Regions from separate parts of the Homo sapiens genome. Here all the other regions are linked to region 2. Evidence: fine-mapped expression QTL. Tissue or cell type: whole blood. Region 2 holds a variant in brackets; each other region holds the start of a gene. All regions are shown on one strand. Distances are between the middles of the regions.

The links. PIP is the estimated chance that this variant, and not a neighbour inherited with it, causes the effect.
Region 1: PARP2 starts here. The variant in region 2 is fine-mapped to the expression of PARP2 in whole blood (TOPMed, PIP 0.91).
Region 3: TEP1 starts here. The variant in region 2 is fine-mapped to the expression of TEP1 in whole blood (TOPMed, PIP above 0.99).

What each region holds. Positions count from the first base shown.
Region 1 is chr14:20,342,010-20,344,692 of GRCh38, forward strand. It overlaps PARP2 (poly(ADP-ribose) polymerase 2), which reads left to right and starts at 1,626. Exons shown (of 16, transcript NM_001042618.2): 1 at 1,626-1,678. The coding sequence starts at 1,633. It also overlaps RPPH1. RefSeq lists enhancers at 509-608, 1,539-1,708.
Region 2 is chr14:20,433,691-20,436,373 of GRCh38, forward strand. It overlaps KLHL33 (kelch like family member 33), which reads right to left and starts at 2,476. Exons shown (of 5, transcript NM_001365790.2): 1 at 2,409-2,476; 2 at 1,374-2,140. The coding sequence starts at 2,121. RefSeq lists an enhancer at 2,023-2,683. The variant T/C (reference allele first, on the strand shown) is at 1,112.
Region 3 is chr14:20,411,999-20,414,681 of GRCh38, forward strand. TEP1 (telomerase associated protein 1) reads right to left here and starts at 1,503. Exons shown (of 55, transcript NM_007110.5): 1 at 1,407-1,503. RefSeq lists enhancers at 341-1,257, 367-536, 1,087-1,156, 1,657-1,706.

The DNA of each region.
Region 1 (2,683 bases), 92 kb before region 2:
TCACACGCTATTTTCTATCAGTCTTGCTAGGCTTTGTATTAAGGTAAAATTTTTATCCTGTAGTTTCTTCTAGCTTTTAAAATATTCATAATCAAATTACATGCAAATAATGAGATTTTGGGTTTTTTCTTTCTAAACTTTACATCTTTTGATGAACAAAAATTAAAATGTATCAATTTTTTTTTCTTTGTTTTTTTCAGACGGAGTCTCACTCTGTCACCCAGGCTGGAGTTCAGTGGCGGGATCTCGGCTCACTGCAACCTCCGCCTCCCGGGTTCAAGCGACTCTCGTGCCTCAGCCTCCCAAGTAGCTGGGATTACAGGCGCCCGCGACCACGCCTGGCTAATTTTTCACTTTTTTTTTTTTTTTTTTTGTAATAGAGACGAGGTTTCGCTATTTTGCTCAGGTTGCTCTATAACAGATACTATGCTATCCTAACAATATGTTTCTAAATGATATTAGTGCCAAAACCAGGATTACCCAGTGATTTTGTTAATACAGGCTTATTGAATCGGAGGGTCTGGGGTGGGGAATTTGCTTAAGTATGCAGTCCCCATACTCGGTGATTCTCATGAAGCCAAACATTTGGGCGCCCCTCACCTGATGTCACCAAGAACCAGAAGACCAATTAGAATTTTCGTGGGCTTCCTGCCCCATGGTTCCCTCTGTTCCCAAAGGGTTTCTGCAGTTTCACGGAGCTTTTCACATTCCACTCGGTTTTTTTTTTTTTGAGACTCGCTCTGTCGCCCAGGCTGGAATGCAGTGGCGCGATCTCGGCTCACTGCAAGCTCCGCCTCCCGGGTTCACGCCATTCTGCTTCAGCCTCCCAAGTAGCTGGGATTATAGGCGCCCGCCACCACGCCCGGCTAATGGCTAATTTTTTGTATTTTTTTTTTTTAGTAGAGATGGGGGGGGGTTTCACCGTGTTAGCCTGGATGGTCTCGACCTCCTGACCTTGTGATCCGCCCGCCTCGGCCTCCCAAAGTGCTGGGATTATAGGCGTGAACCACCGCGCCCGGCCCGGTTTCGTTTTGTTTTTTTTTTTTTTTTTTTTTTCCAAAAATGGGCGGAGGAGAGTAGTCTGAATTGGGTTATGAGGTCCCCTGCGGGGTACCTCACCTCAGCCATTGAACTCACTTCGCTGGCCGTGAGTCTGTTCCAAGCTCCGGCAAAGGAGGCATCCGCCGGGCCCCTCCCCGAAGGGCGGGGTCCACGGCATCTCCTGCCCAGTCTGACCTCGCGCGGAGCCCCGTTCTCTGGGAACTCACCTCCCCGAAGCTCAGGGAGAGCCCTGTTAGGGCCGCCTCTGGCCCTAGTCTCAGACCTTCCCAAGGGACATGGGAGTGGAGTGACAGGACGCACTCAGCTCGTGGCCCCACTGATGAGCTTCCCTCCGCCCTATGGGAAAAAGTGGTCTCATACAGAACTTATAAGATTCCCAAATCCAAAGACATTTCACGTTTATGGTGATTTCCCAGAACACATAGCGACATGCAAATATTGCAGGGCGCCACTCCCCTGTCCCTCACAGCCATCTTCCTGCCAGGGCGCACGCGCGCTGGGTGTTCCCGCCTAGTGACACTGGGCCCGCGATTCCTTGGAGCGGGTTGATGACGTCAGCGTTCGAATTCCATGGCGGCGCGGCGGCGACGGAGCACCGGCGGCGGCAGGGCGAGAGGTTCGGAGCTCAATATCGCGGGACGGCATGCGGGGGGCGGGCAGTCAGAAAGGAACGATGCCACCTACTGTGACCCCCTTCCCCTTCCAGCTCCCTATAACCTGCACTTGGCTACCAAACCAGTTGGGGTGCTAAATTTTGTAAATTTCGGTTTTCAGAGCTTTGGGGATTACATAATTGTGCATAAAGCCTTGCGGAGCTGTAACAACTAATGTGCCAGTACTGTTGTTAATACCTAATGTCATCCAATTTACAAAAAGTAATTGTAAGGCACACCATTATTTTATACACAACAAAGGATAAGCACTGAAAATGGTGAACTGTGATTCACTGCTTATGTCATCCATTGTAAGATGCATCCCAGTTCCAGAGAGTAAAATGCGAGTCTTAGACCTATTGAGATACGGTATTATGTGTATAATGTTCTTAAATGCATAGGTGCACCCTATAAATTAGGTTCTATTGTACTTCTCTAGAAGTACAGTATTGTACAATATTCTAATATTGGAGTAAGTGAAGTAGGAAGAGATCAAATACTTCTCCAAGTTTCCACAGAGAAAAGCAGCAGAGCTAGGCTCTAAATTAGGCACAGACCCTTGAGCACTTAACTAACCTTTATCCCATACGGCCTCATGTATGAGGTGGGTATTTGGGGGACATTGGGACACAAGTAAAACAGATAAGCAGGCCTCAATCTATGAGCTTACAAGACTCCTGGGACTCCCTTTTATTTTGTTTTATTTCATTTGGCTAGAATAGCAATTTAGGAAGAATTACACAGACTGTTACACAAAAGTAGTGTGGGACAGTTGTTATTGCCTCTGTAAACTTAGAAAATTATCTTAAACCGGCGGGGTGAGGTGGCTCACGCCTGTAATCCCTTGGGAGGCCGAGGAGGGCAGATCACTTGAGGTCACGAGTTCGAGACCAGCCTGGCCAACATGGTGAAACCCTGTCTCTACTAAAAATACAAAAATTAACTGGGCATGGTGGTGCACGCCTGTA
Region 2 (2,683 bases):
AAAGCAGTGATATGAGTATGCTTAAATTCAAAAGCCTAGTGAGAATTTTATGATTATGAAAAATTTAAATCCCCTCTCCATCTAGTGCTATCATAAATGAAAATAGACTTTTGGAGTGGTTTTCCTTCTAGGAGTCCCAGAAGCACTTCAGTTCCCAGTCACTCCTCTAATGGGCAGTAGCTATGTGACTTTGGACAAGTCTTGGATTCTGATTTCGTCATCATCAAAGTGTAACAGCCCAACTAGATAATCTCTAAACTAATCCCTTGTAATTTTAAACTTTCAATGTGTCCACATGGCCTAGTGGAAGGAGACTGGACTAGTGATGTAGGCTTGTATCCTGGGGTTGTCCCAAGTCAACATCTCCAAATTTAATGTTCCTTATGTGCACCTGTAGATAATGATATTGACCTCACCAGCTTTCAGTAAAATTTAAAAAGAGATGTCATGTGTAAAAATTTCAGGTACCCAGTGCCTCACTAAATGTTAGTAGACTCCGAATAATACTCAACTTATGCAACCCTACTTAGCTTTCCTGGTGATGAGCAGAGTTAACTTCAAAGTGCCATGGCCAGGCCGGGTGCAGTGACTCATGCCTGTAATCCCAGCATGAGACAGGTGGATCACCTGAGGTTAAGAGTTCAAGACAAGCCTGGCCAACCTGGTGAAACCCCATCTCTACTAAAAAAATACCAAAAAAATTAGCCAGGCATGGTGGCAGGTGCCTGTAATCCCAGCTACTCGGGAGGCTGAGGCAGGACAATCACTTGAACCCAGGAGGTGCAGGTTGCAGTGAGCCAAGATTGTGCCACTGCACTCCAGCCTGGGCAACAGAGTGAGATGCTGTCTCAGAAAAAAAAAAAAAAAGTGCCACGGCCTGGTAACCTTAAACAGTACCAGACCTTGCTCATTAGCTGCAGGGCCCATAAGTCAGCCATGGCGTCAAGCACACCAAGGTGAAAGCACACATTGAGTTTTCCACCATGTTCCCCTGGCTTTCCTGTGTCCTGAATGGAGGATGCCAAGAAGGGCCTTTTGTTAATTTCTGCTTGAGTCAATCCACTTTCTGCTTGTTCTACTGCCATGGATTGTACCCTTAGCTCTAGCCAGC[T/C]GGCTGGAGATTCCTTGTTACTGGACACAGGAAAAGCCAGACAGAGGGTCAGTTTAAATCTGTCAGAGCGCCTAGAAAACAACTCGACTGCGCATGCCCGGCTCTCCGTGGGGCAGGAGAGGCACCAAAGGCCACCCCAGGGAAATTCTGACAGCAGCAGGGATCAAAACCATCATGGTGGGGATAAAACCACCTGCTGCTTGCACACACCATTCCGTTAGCATATGCACCTGCAGTAATTTAATGCCCCACAGGCCCTCACCCGACAGCTGGCAGCCGCCTGCCTCCAGCTTCAAGTCACACCCGACGCCCTCTCGGTAGAGGAGCTCGATTCCGCGCAGGTTCTCCCTCAGCTCCTCTGCCTGGCTGGGCTTCTTTACATCTTCCCTGGCATTTCCAGCCCTCTCGCATGTCTGCTGGGCAGCAGCCTTCACCCGGGGCGCTCCCAGCGCCTCTGCTGCGGCCAGCACATCCCCCTGCGAGGCGGGGCCCAGCACCCCCTCATAGGCAAAGGTCAGCACGGCCTCCCAGCCCCCTGGGGACACCTCGAGGCTGAAGGGGGGCCGCGGACCTCCGCCGCCCAGCAGCCTGTCTCGGAAGAGGCTGCTGATTGCGGCCAGGATCACCCGATGCACCCCGTATACCCGCCCCGCGACTGACACCTCTTCGTCCAGCAACAGTCTCTGCTCCCGCAGCCGCTGGGCCTCGGCGAAAAACTGGCTCGGATGCTCCTCGCTGCGCAGCCACTCGGGCTCTGCCGCATCTTCATCTTCTTCCTCTTCCTCTTCTTCCTCTAGGGACAAGGCTGGAAAGGGAAGGTTCCTTGGGACCAGGGGCCTGGAACCAGGCTCCTCCAGAGGAAAGGAAGGCAATCTGGGATCCTCGTCGGGGGAGGGAGGCCAGGAAGGGGTTCTCTGGGCGTGCACAAGGAGTCCAAGGCAGTCCCTCTGGACGGGATGAGAGACACTCTCCAGCTCAGGGGGATAATGTGGGGTGTCCGAGACGCTCATGCCGAGGTTTGCTGGATAGCTGCAGGTGAGCAGAGGCAAGACAGCCTGGCGTCAGAGCTGGGCCCAAAGAGGCCAGAGCAACCATGTCTCCAGCCAGTTGAAATGTCAGTCTCTCCCCTGCTCCAACACCCTCCTCCTACCCTCAGCCACATCCCAGCACTGGAGTATCTGGGATATACAGGACAGCTATAGGGTGCACGCGGTGCAGTGAAACATGCAAGAAGCCCTGTAAAGATCCGGTAACCGGGACCACACCCCTCCCCTATTGCCCCCATCCTTTTAGTCACCCTCAGGAGACACCAGCGTTCCGCTTGCCCTCTCACTTAAGCGCCCGCTGTGCTTGGGGCTGCGTGGCAGAGGGAACTTGCCCACATGGCATCCCAGTCAGCCAGTGGCCCCATGGGGCTAATTATAGCCAGTCCTGGCTGGCTAGGCACTTGGCACCTGGTGTCCTAACTCTGACACCCAATCCCCTGGGCTCCCTCCCAGACTGACATCCCCACCCTTCCACCTGTAGGTCATACAGGAGTGTGCTGAGCTAGGCAAATTAGGAAACCAAGGA
Region 3 (2,683 bases), 22 kb before region 2:
CATTCATATGTAAATATTTTGGGAATAATATTGTTAAGTCAACCACCTAAACTTAGTGTGAAAAAGCTTAGGGACAAAAGTACAGAACACTTCCAAGAAGACCTGAATGACTAACAATCCAGGGCCAAAAAGGACAACAATATCTCACTGGACGTCAGTGTGACAAACACGTAAAAAATGATGGCTTCTGTGCCCAATACACTTTGCTCATGTCGTTGCCCTATATAAGCCCCCAAGGAAAGGAGTGGGGAAACTCAGAATTGACTCAGATTTTTTTTAAAAGAGATCTCAAGCCAAAAATAAACAGAAAAATAAGGACAGTTTATTTGAGCAACATAGTGAGACTGTCCTATCCTTAAAAGGACAGTCTCACTATTTTGCTCATTTTATTGTTTTGCACCCTGGAGTTTTTGAAAGGAGATTCGGCTGAACCACAAATGGAAAGTTAAAGTTCCGTCCCCACTTCCATCTCTAGTTCCCTTCTCTGGAAGTAAACATTGCTCACAGTTTTATACTAACAGTTTCACAGTTTCTATGCATATGCAAATACATGCCTTCACCATCACCACTGCTTTTGCTTTTGCTTTACACAAACAGGATCATAAGTTAGATGCTATTCTGCACTTAGTATATCTCAGAGACCTTGCCCTGTTAACACATTAATACCCACCTCACTCTTTCCTTTTTTTTTTTTTTTTTTTTTTGAGGCGGAGTCTGGCTCTGTTGTTCAGCTCACTGCAATCTCTGCCTGCCGAGTTCAAGCGATTCTCCTGCCTTAGCCTTCCGAGTAACTGGGATTACAGGCGCCCACCACCATGCCCGGCTAATTTTTTTGTATTTTCAGTAGAGAGGGTTTTCACCATGTTGGTCAGGCTGGTCTCAAACTCCTGACCTCAGGTGATCCCCAACCTCCGCCTCCCAAAGTGCTGGGATTACAGGCGTGAACCACCGCGCCCGGCCTCCACCTCACTCTTCAAGTGGCTGTATGGTAGTCTAGCACATTTAAGCACAGTCTGGGTTTCTATTATCACAAACGGTTCTCATACTACCATTTGTTGGTGACAGCCACTGTCCCCTTTCGATGGGCACACAGGGCAAGGAAGTAAGAGGGGATGATTCTTACGTGGTCTCTCTTCCTGTCCCTCCCTCTCCTTCAGCCTTCTCCTCCTCCTTTCTCACCTCCCCTTTCACGCAGTATACACTCCCTCCCCTTCCCGGAGCCGCCGGGAGGAGCAGGGTGGATGCACCCCTAGCTGAGTCTCGGGTGGTTCCTAACCGGCCCCGCCAGGCACTTCCCACCCAGCTCTCAGCCTCAGAGCCCAGCGCCCTAGACCCAGGGCCAGGGCAAGTTCTGCCTGCGCTCGGACCCTACCTTAGACTGGGGCTGGAAACCCTGGGTGCCTGACCTGGGGCGTCCGATTCCCGCAGCAGGAAGCAGAAACTTCGCTCTGGATTCTGCCGGTGGGAAGGGTGGCAGCCGGGGGAGGAGCCGGATGCGGATCTGAGAAGAGACGGTGCGGGCGGAGACTCTCGGGCCCGGGCGGGGCGCAGCAGCTGCTGGAAGGGCAGCGAGCCGAGGGCCGGGCAAGACGACATGCCAGGGCTGCGACGCGAATGCCCAGGACCCCTGCCGCCTTTTCTGGGGCCCGAGTTTAGTTTGTTATTGTTTCTATTTTTTTTCCCTTTCTGGTCCTATTTTCTCCTGTCCCTAGGGCTTCCCCCTCTACCAAATTCGTCTCCTCTGGCTAATTTTCGTCTTTTTTTCTCCCATTAACTCTTCAAACACCGTTTCCTGGAAAAGATTTTAGCATGCTCGCTGCCTAGCTGTACACCTCTCCTTCCTAATATCAAAGACGGTCAGACTCAATTCATCCTAAAGTTCCTTTGAGGAACTCCTTAAAAGGAGACGGAAAGCGGAAAGCAACCGCCTGTAACCAAGTGTAGACATCAGTCAATCAAAGTTCGCTGAACTGAGAGCAAGTGCCTCCCCTCCTGTTGATCAGAAGAGAGATCCGTGGATCACACAGAATCTATCTGGAGCCATCCTGAATGATTAATGCTGAACCCTTTCCAGGAAGATGGAACCAGGCTTAGGAAAGAGACAAGTGACCCTTAGGTTAATAATCCTAGCTTCATAAAGAGAGGACCAAACATAGTAGCAGGAGAAATATGCTTTCTGCCTTTATATAAAGCAGATTAGCTGTCTTCTGGAAAATATCATTGCTTTCCTTAGAGAGGTACCCTTGAGTCTCAGGTAACAGCTGAGCTTCCGCTCAGAATTGAGGGCATTCTGTCCTCTATTAACTGAGCCAGTACCCCTTTCCTTCCTTAGAAACCTCTATTGCCACCAGTCCCAACACTCCCTGCAATGGTCTTTATGTTTGTGTCTCCCCAAAATTTATATATTGAAACCCTAATCCCAATGCGATGGTATTTAGGGTGGGATCTCTGGGAGGTCATTAGGTCATGGAGTTTAGAATACTCATAAATGGGATTGGTGGCCTCATAAGGAGAGACGGAAGAGCTAGCTAGCTCTTTTTCCACGATATGAGGATACAAGAAAACAGCCATCTGCAATCCCAAGGAAGACCCTCATCTTCAGAGGCAGACCATGCTGGCAATCTGATCTTGGACTTCCATTCTCTAGAACTGTGAGAAATAATATTTGTTGTTTAAGCCACCC